Regions from separate parts of the Homo sapiens genome. Here regions 2 and 3 are each linked to region 1. The links come from fine-mapping of genetic effects on gene expression. A gene starts in region 1. Each other region holds a variant in brackets. All regions are shown on one strand. Distances are from middle to middle. Region 1 holds the start of ARF6 (ARF GTPase 6). Region 2 overlaps LINC01588 (long intergenic non-protein coding RNA 1588). Region 3 holds the start of MIR6076 (microRNA 6076).

What was found. PIP is the estimated chance that this variant, and not a neighbour inherited with it, causes the effect. A credible set is the group of variants that fine-mapping cannot tell apart.
Region 2: its variant is the best candidate, but not a certain one, in a credible set for the expression of ARF6 in fibroblasts (GTEx, PIP 0.90).
Region 3: its variant is the best candidate, but not a certain one, in a credible set for the expression of ARF6 in whole blood (INTERVAL, PIP 0.71).

The regions. Positions count from the first base shown.
Region 1 is chr14:49,891,361-49,894,122 of GRCh38, reverse strand. It overlaps ARF6 (ARF GTPase 6), which reads right to left and starts at 1,041. Exons shown (of 2, transcript NM_001663.4): 1 at 966-1,041; 2 at 1-867. The coding sequence starts at 386. RefSeq lists enhancers at 112-161, 192-511, 1,382-1,481 and silencers at 672-861, 902-1,291.
Region 2 is chr14:49,981,330-49,984,091 of GRCh38, reverse strand. LINC01588 (long intergenic non-protein coding RNA 1588) reads left to right here. Exons shown (of 4, transcript NR_126498.1): 4 at 1,788-2,423. All of the region lies in intron 1 of LOC105370485 (a long non-coding RNA gene), which reads right to left. Among named protein-coding and RNA genes, the nearest start is that of MIR6076, 16 kb to the right of the region's middle. The variant G/T (reference allele first, on the strand shown) is at 1,106.
Region 3 is chr14:49,965,427-49,968,188 of GRCh38, reverse strand. It overlaps MIR6076 (microRNA 6076), which reads right to left and starts at 1,790; the gene lies at 1,678-1,790. The variant G/A (reference allele first, on the strand shown) is at 1,267.

The DNA.
Region 1 (2,762 bases):
GCATCGGGCAGGTCCTGCTTGTTGGCGAAGATGAGGATTATGGCGTCCCTCATCTCCCGGTCATTGATAATGCGGTGCAGCTCCTGGCGAGCCTCATCGATGCGGTCGCGGTCGGCGCAGTCCACTACGAAGATGAGACCTTGGGTCCCAGTGTAGTAATGCCGCCAGAGCGGCCGGATCTTGTCCTGGCCGCCCACATCCCATACGTTGAACTTGACATTTTTGTAAGTCACCGTCTCCACGTTGAAACCCACAGTGGGAATGGTGGTCACCGACTGGCCCAGCTTCAACTTGTACAGGATTGTTGTCTTGCCGGCCGCGTCCAGGCCCAACATGAGGATCCGCATTTCCTTGTTCCCGAAGATTTTGGATAGCACCTTCCCCATCGCGTCGGAGGAGCCGGGGCCGGGGGCATTCAGGTGTCCCGGGTCCCCTCAGCCAACAACGCCGCCGCCGCCGCGAAACCGAAACGAAGCCTCTCGGCCGCGAGAGCGCCTTTGCGGCCTGCGTGGGAGTTGCCTCCTAAGGGCAGAGGCCCAGGCCCCCCGCTCACTCGGGCATCACCGACCGCACAACTTGATTTCTCCAGTCGCCGCCGCCACCCGGGCCCTGAGACTGCGCTGGGAGCCGCCGCCCTGCTGAGGCGCGGCCCGGCCCGGAACTGCCCTTCCCCCCGCAGGCGCCGCGCGAGCGCCGCCGCGGTTCCCGCTCCTCCGCCTTCCTCTCACCGCGAGGGAGACTGCAGCCCTCCGGCCCGCCCGCCGGCCTGCGAGCACTGGGCTCCCCACCGACCCAGGACACCCGAGAGGCAGCGCGGCTCCGGGGCCCCGTCAGGTCATGGATCCTCGCGGGAACTCGGTGCGCTGCCTGCAGAGAAACAGAGAGGGAGGGGAGTTACTGCCAGAGCTCCACAAAGGAGCGAAGACCGAGGTGGCCCGCCTTTCCAGCTCGGCCCAAGGGGTTACCTCCAGCCGCCGCCCCGAGCGCGGGCTCCCTCCGGCCTCCAACTCCTCCTCCCAGTTCTGCCGCCGCCGCTGCCGGAAAAGGCGCCGAGGAAACCGCCTCACTTCCCCTCCCGACCACGCAGGCGCAGCAGAGGCCGACCGTTCGGACAAGAGCGACCTCTGTAAGGAGAGCGGCCCGCGCGCCTAGCGTCATGGGCGCCACGCGCCGGAGGGGCGGGGCTACGGCGCCTCGGAGGGCTCGCAGATGCGGCCGGCCCAGAGCCCTCGAACCTCGGACTCTGACTCGCGCCTACCCGTGGCTCTTCTAGCGTCTCCTTCCCTGCTTTTCTCTTTTGCGCTCTGCCCTCCCCTGCCCACCCGAACCAAGGGAGCAGATCTACTGGGGGGCCCTACAGGGTGGGGCCCACGGGCAGCCCGCTCTCTCCACGAACCGAGCTGCCTCCAGGCCTGTTCCCAGACCTCGGTGCCCGCCAGATGCTCTGCGAATTCCCTCCGCCCGCCCCAGCCTTCCCGCACCCTCCGCGCTCCCTGAACGTCCCAGGGAAGCTCTGTTCGCTTTTGTTTTTTTTTTTTTTCCCTTTTTCGCAACCCCTTCTTGGCTTCCTTTATCCCTTGAATTTTGTATGTTTCCTGAAAGACACGTGGGAGGCCAGTGTCTCGTGTGGAATCTGCCAGTCAGTGCAGCGCTTTCCCGGAGTTGAGTTTACTCTGCAGCTCTTTTGAATGTTTGAGCCCTGTCTGCCTATAGGTCTCGTCAAGACCAGCCCATGTTTCTTAAAAACTGCAGTATTATGAAGAGTTCCTGTGCCTTGCCGCGTTTTCACCTTTTTAGAATGCGACATCTGTTCATCTTTAAAATATCATTTTATCTCATACTGTTAGTAGTAGCTTCTTAACTACTACCCATTCTTAACTTTAAGAAGCATAGAATTTAGAATATAGAACGACCGCTTGTATGGCCTGGATCTGGGCACTTAACCTTACTAAGTTTATCTCGTGTAAACTGACCTTGCTAACTCACGTGAGGCTTAAATAATACAATGTGGAAGACTTCAGGGCACATTTTTGGTTTTTTGGTTTTTGTTTGTTTCTTGAGACGGGGTCTCACTCTGTCGCCCAGGCTGGAGTCCAGTTGCACAATCTCGGCTCACTGCAGCCTCCTCATCCTGGGTTCAAGCAGTTCTGCCTTAGCCTCCGGAGCAGCTGGAATTAGGTCGCCCACCACCACGCCCGGCTAATTTTTGTATTTTTAGTAGAGACGGGGTTTCACCATGTTGGCCAGGCTGGTCTCGAAGTCCTGACCTCAGGTGATCCACCCGCCTCGGCCCCCCAAAATGCTGGGATTACAGGCGTGAGCCACTGCGCCCTGCCAAGGACACATTTTTGTATCAAATGGTTAATGATAAAATTAGACTTAAAATAACGTGAAACCTTCAAATATCAAGGGGAGAAAAACAGGAAATGGGTATCTTTGTTTAAAAAGCAAGATGCTATAAACAGCATATGGTAACATACTGTTTTTATTAAACAAATTTAAAATATTAGATAATGGTAGATAGGTTATATGATAACCTTATAAACGTCATTTCAGTCGGAAATAAACTTATTAAACATTAATATTCTAACAATTATTTCATTTACTTTCCATTTACCTTAAGATGAAGCACTGTCATAAAACTGAAAAGCTTAGGAGTCTGAAGATTGGGGTTCAAGTGTCATCCCCAACCCCACCTCTCTATTTTTGGGACAAGGTCTCGCTCTGTCACCAAGGCTGCAGTGCAGTGGTGCGATGTCAGC
Region 2 (2,762 bases), 90 kb before region 1:
CCTGGGCGACTGAGTGAGACTCCATCAAAAGAAGGAAAGAAAGAGAGAAAGAGAGGAAAGAAGGAAGGAAGGGAGGGAGGGAGGGAGGAAGGGAAGGAGCGAGCCAGGTACAAAAGGACAAATATTGTGTGATTCAATTTATGTGAGGTATCTAGAGCAGGCAAATTCATAGAGGCAGAAAGTAGAATGGTGGTTACCAGGAGATAAGGCATGAGAGAATAGGGAATTATTGCTTATTGGGTACAGAGTTTCTGTTTGGGATGATGCAAAAATCCTGGAAATAGATAATGGTGACAGTTGGGCAATATTAAGTGAATTGTGAATGTACTTAAGGCCACTGAATTGTACACTTAAAAATGGCTGGTCAGGCACGGTGGCTCATGCCTGTAATCCCAGCACTTTGGGAGGCCGAGGTGGGCAGACCACGGGGACAGGAATTCGAGACCAGCCTAGCCAATATGGTGAAACCCTGTCTCTATTAAAAATACAAAAATTAGCTGGATGTGGTGGCAGGTGCCTGTAGTCCCAGCTGCTCAGGAGGCTGAGGCAGTAGAATATCTTGAACCCAGGAAGCAGGGGTTGCAGTGAGCCAAGGTCGTGCCACTGCACTCCAGCCTGGGCAACAGAGCAAGACTTCGTCTCCAAAAAAAAAAAAAAAAAAAAGTTAAAATGGGCCGGATGCAGTGGCAGTGGCCACACCTATAAACCCAGCACTTTGGGAGGCTGAGGCGGGCAGATCACCTGAGGTTGGGAGTTCAAGACCAGCCTGGCCAACATGGCGAAACCCCATCTCTACTAAAAATACAAAAATTAGCTGGGCGTGGTGGCCATGCCTATAATCCCAGCTACTTGGAAGCCTGAGGCACGAGAATCTCTTGAACCCCGGGAGACAGAGGTTGCAGTGAGCCGAGATCATGCCACTGCACTCCAGCCTGGGCAACAGAGTAAGACTCTGTCTCAAAAAAAAAAAAAAAAAAAAAAAAAAGCTAAAATGGTAACTTATATTACATATGTTTTACAACAATTTTTAAAAATCTATGAAACAAATGAAACCAAAAAAGTGGGTTTTGTTTGTTTGTGTTAGGAAGAAAAAATAGAACAGTTT[G/T]TAAATTTTGTTTGTGGGTTTTGTTTTGTCTTTGCTTTCTTTAATCCCAACCTGCCCATGCCGTGTAGCGGGGTGACTAAGACCCCCCCATGAAATTACAGAAGGCTTTCGGGCTGCGGGTTTGGGTGGCTTTGTGCCTCAGGAGATCCTACGTCATTTAGAAAGATTTCTACTTTGGCAATTTTGTTCCAATTCTTCAACTCTCAGGAATGTGTAGCATGGAAGCTTCCCCCCACTGCCCCCCAAGCCTATGTTGGGTCAGAATTTGTTTGTGAAAATATTATTTTAGGATTCCTTCCACTTCTGTCATCTGCTTATTTTCCTTCCTGCATATTTCATAACGTAGCAGAGCGATTTCTGATTCAGCAGTTAAAATAGTCTGTGCATTCGTTATCACTTCCTTGTGACCCACTTTATGCACAATTACTCATTTCGTCATTGAAAGTTTAGATTTCAAAAAAAAAAAATTCTGGGACTAAAGTATGTGTCTACGGAGAAAAGGAGGGGAAGAGATATTGACTGAATATCTATTCTAGCACTCAAAGGAACCCCAAGGGTGGGCACTGTGGATCAACCCTGAGGTTTCCCATCTCACCGCTCTTCTCTCAAATTATATCCTCTTCAGTTGTTCCACACTCTTAACCCCACCTTTACACTCTCCTTACTCTCATTTTCTTCCTAGGAAATACCTCTGTACACTCACCAGACACTGGCTGCTGGTTGTCACGGTGCTAAGAGCTGTGGGAAACATGAAGAGCAATGAGACCAGGTCCCTGCTCTGAGGAGACGTGTGCCAGCGAAGTTTCTCTCCCACGTGAGTGTGCTACAAGAAAATCTGAACCCGAGAATCTGATTCAGTAGGTCTGCACTTTCTCCACTTTGCCAGATAATTCTGATTGAGACCGTCAAGGCTGTGACTAGTGGGGAGGCAGTAGAGTATTTTCTGTGCTAGACTGAGGCAGCCCTGAAGCACTGCGCAAGCACATGGAAAAGAGAAACGAGATTGGGCCGGGCACGGTGGCTCATGCCTGGAATCTTTGGGAGGCCACGGATCACTTGAGGACAGGGGTTTGAGACCAGCTTGGCCAACATGGTGAAACCTTGTCCCTACTAAAAATACAAAAATTAGCAGGGAGTGGTGGTGCACACCTGTAATCCCAGCTACTCTGGAGGCTGAGGCAAAAGAATCGCTTGAACCCGGGAGGTGGAGGTTGCAGTGAGCTGAGATTGGACCACTGCCCTCCAGCCTGGGTGATAGAGTGAGACTCCATCTCTAAATAAATAAATACAAATAAAAGAAAGACAAGATTGGTCTAACAGATGATGGAAGGCTTCATGGAAGGGGAAATTAAGCAGATGGGAGGCCCAGCAGGCACTGTACCTGCTGCTGCTCAGCACTGGATGTGAGGGCAAGACTTTGAGTCACATTCCTCCCCATACCCCAGGGCCTTTAGAGCATATGTAGAGGACAGGAAACTTGGGACAAGGGGGTACACTCACTTCTGAGACGGTCCAGATGGATGATACCTTATCCTGGGGTACCTGCTGCACAGAGTTCCAGTTCCAGACTAACCTGCTAGCAGAGGTCCCTGCTAAGGTCCCTGGAGAAGGTCCTTAACTTCTCCAGTCTCAGGTGAGAGATGATGTTATCTGCTTG
Region 3 (2,762 bases), 74 kb before region 1:
CAGTCGGGATTACAGGCACCTGCCACCATGCCCAGCTAATTTTTGTATTTTCAGTAGAGACAGGGTTTCGCCCTGTTGGCCAGACTGTTCTCAAACTCCTGACCTCAGGCAATCCACCCGCCTTGGCCTCCCAAAGTGCTGGGACTACAGGCGTGAGCCACTGCACCCGGCCTATACACCTTTTCTGTATTTTTATTTTTAAAAGTTCCCAAAATTGAAATGGTCAGTAGGCCACTGCAACCAGCCTATACACCTTTTCTCTATTTTTATTTTTAAAAGTTCCAAAAATTGAAATGGTCAGTAGGCCACTGCAACCAGCCTATACACCTTTTCTGTATTTTTATTTCTAAAAGTTCCAAAAATTGAAATGGTCAATAGGCATATGATAAAATGAACAATCTAACTGGTAAATCCAGGAAATGCAATTTAAAATGACACTGTTTTTTCTGCACATGACGCTGGCAGTTTTAACAAAATGATTATGTCCAACGCTGATGAGTATAATGGTGGCTATAAAAATCAGAACAGAATTTTGGGGGAGAAACTCAATATTATTTACAAAAATTTTAAATGTGCATGCCCTTTGATCCAGAAATTCCACTTCTAGAAATAATATCCTTCAGAAACACTCATACATACACACACCCATTTGTGTATAAGAACATTTGTTGCAGCATTGTTTGTAATGGTGAAAAATGGAAAACCACCTATGTGATCCTTTGCTAAAATAGTGGGTAAAGAAACTATGATACATCTAGAAGGAATGCAACAGTTAAAATGGGGGATGCCTATATGCACTAACACAGAAAGAGCTACAGGGAATGTTGTTAAGTAAAAGAAAAAAGTAAGTCAGAGAACAGAACATGTCATGTGATCGTTTATGCATAAATGACCTGAATGGGCCGGGTGTGGTGGCTTACACCTGTAATCCCAGCACTTTGGGAGGCCGAGGTGAGCAGATAACGAGATCAAGTCCATCCTGGCCAACATGGTGAAACCGCGTCTCTACTAAAAACACAAAAATTAGCTCAGCGTGGTGGCGCGCACCTGTAGTCCCAGCTACTCGGGAAGCTGAAAGCTGAAGCAGGAGAATTGCTTGAATCCAGAAGGCAGAGGTTGCAGTGAGCTGAGATTGTGCCACTGCACTCCAGCCTGGGTGACAGAGGAAGACTCCGTTTAAAAAAAAAAAAAAAAAAAGACCTGAATGTCCTTAAAACATTAAAACCACACACACAAAAAATTAAAACAACGGAAAATATCTGATGT[G/A]GTTCATTTATCTAAATACTTCACAAATCCTAAGACAAATAAATTTAACTTCTCTCTTGAGAAGTTATATGCACTGTATAAGAATTCTCTGGAACTGTCTCTCTACACCAAACCTGAAAGGACTGCACCACAATGGGAAGGAACTATTTCTTGTTCCACAGCCTCCTAGAAGAGTCTCAGTGTCTCCTCAGAAATGCCAGCTCCCACACGGGCCTGAGCAATAGCTCATGGAGTCTCTCCAGACCTTTGTGCTTCTGAGGCACTTTTCAATAATTAACTAATCTGCCTAAAGGGTGGGGCGGGCTATGGCTCCCACAGACTCAGCACTCCCTTCAGCCAGCTGCCCTCTGGAATGCAAAGGCATCCATCCCCTAGGAATGGCTGTTGGTCAATCCCTGCCCCACCACAGCCCCCAAACTCAGGAGGGTGAAAGGGCCAGGGCAGGAAAGCAACTTCCCCTCTCAGATGTTCTCCTGGAGAAATTATATTACTCTCGCCTACCTCCACCTCTCCTCTGTCATGCTCCTCCAGCATCTGAAAAAGAACGTTCCAACAGGCAGCAGGACAAATTACATGTCAATGCTGTCAGTTTCAATGCTGCCCTTTGTTGCTCCAGGTCCTATGAACCACAGAAAAATGTATAGGTCCTTTCCATTTTTTTTTTCTTTCTGGCACAAATAAAATAAACAGCAGAAGCAGTTTCTATTTCAGTATTTTCAAAGGGATGGTGTCTGGAGGAATGGTTCCCAATCTTTGGAATTTAACAAACCATTAAAATTTTGAAAACCTTTTGAGAGACTAACATAGGACTGCTCACTTCTATTTTGCCAAGCACAGACACTTAAAAAACAACCTGAATTATTGTCACCATCATTTTATGGTGGGAGATGATTGGACACTTTAACCCCAAAACAATGTAATCATGACAATCTCAGATTTTAAAACAGGACTTCAAATTTAATACACTCAGATGCATGAGAAATACACATGTATTTCACGTAGACTGGTGAACACTTCCTTACAGACGCACCAGCCCCTTGGAAAGAACTGGCAGAGACTAAATCATAAGTTTCCAAACCTGACTATGCCTGAGAAAGATAGGAAGGCATTAAAAATAATAATAATAATAATACAGATTCCAGATTCCCACCCCATCCATATTTACTGTATCACCTTCTGAGGATTTCTTGAGACGGAGTTTTGCTCTGTCACTCGGGCTGGAGCGCAATGGCACTATCTCGGCTCACTGCAACCTCTGCCACCCAGGTTCAGGTGATTCTTCTGCCTCAGCCTCCAGAGTAGCTGGGATTACAGGCACCCACCATCATGCCAGGCTAATTTTTGTATCTCTGTAGAGAAGGGGTTTCACCATGTTGGCCAGGCTGGTCTTGAACTCCTGACCTCAGGTGATCCACCTGCCTCGGCCTCCCAAAGTGCCGGGATTACAGGCGTGAGCCACCTCGCCCGGCCGCCTCTGAGGCTTTCTAAGGGTGGGG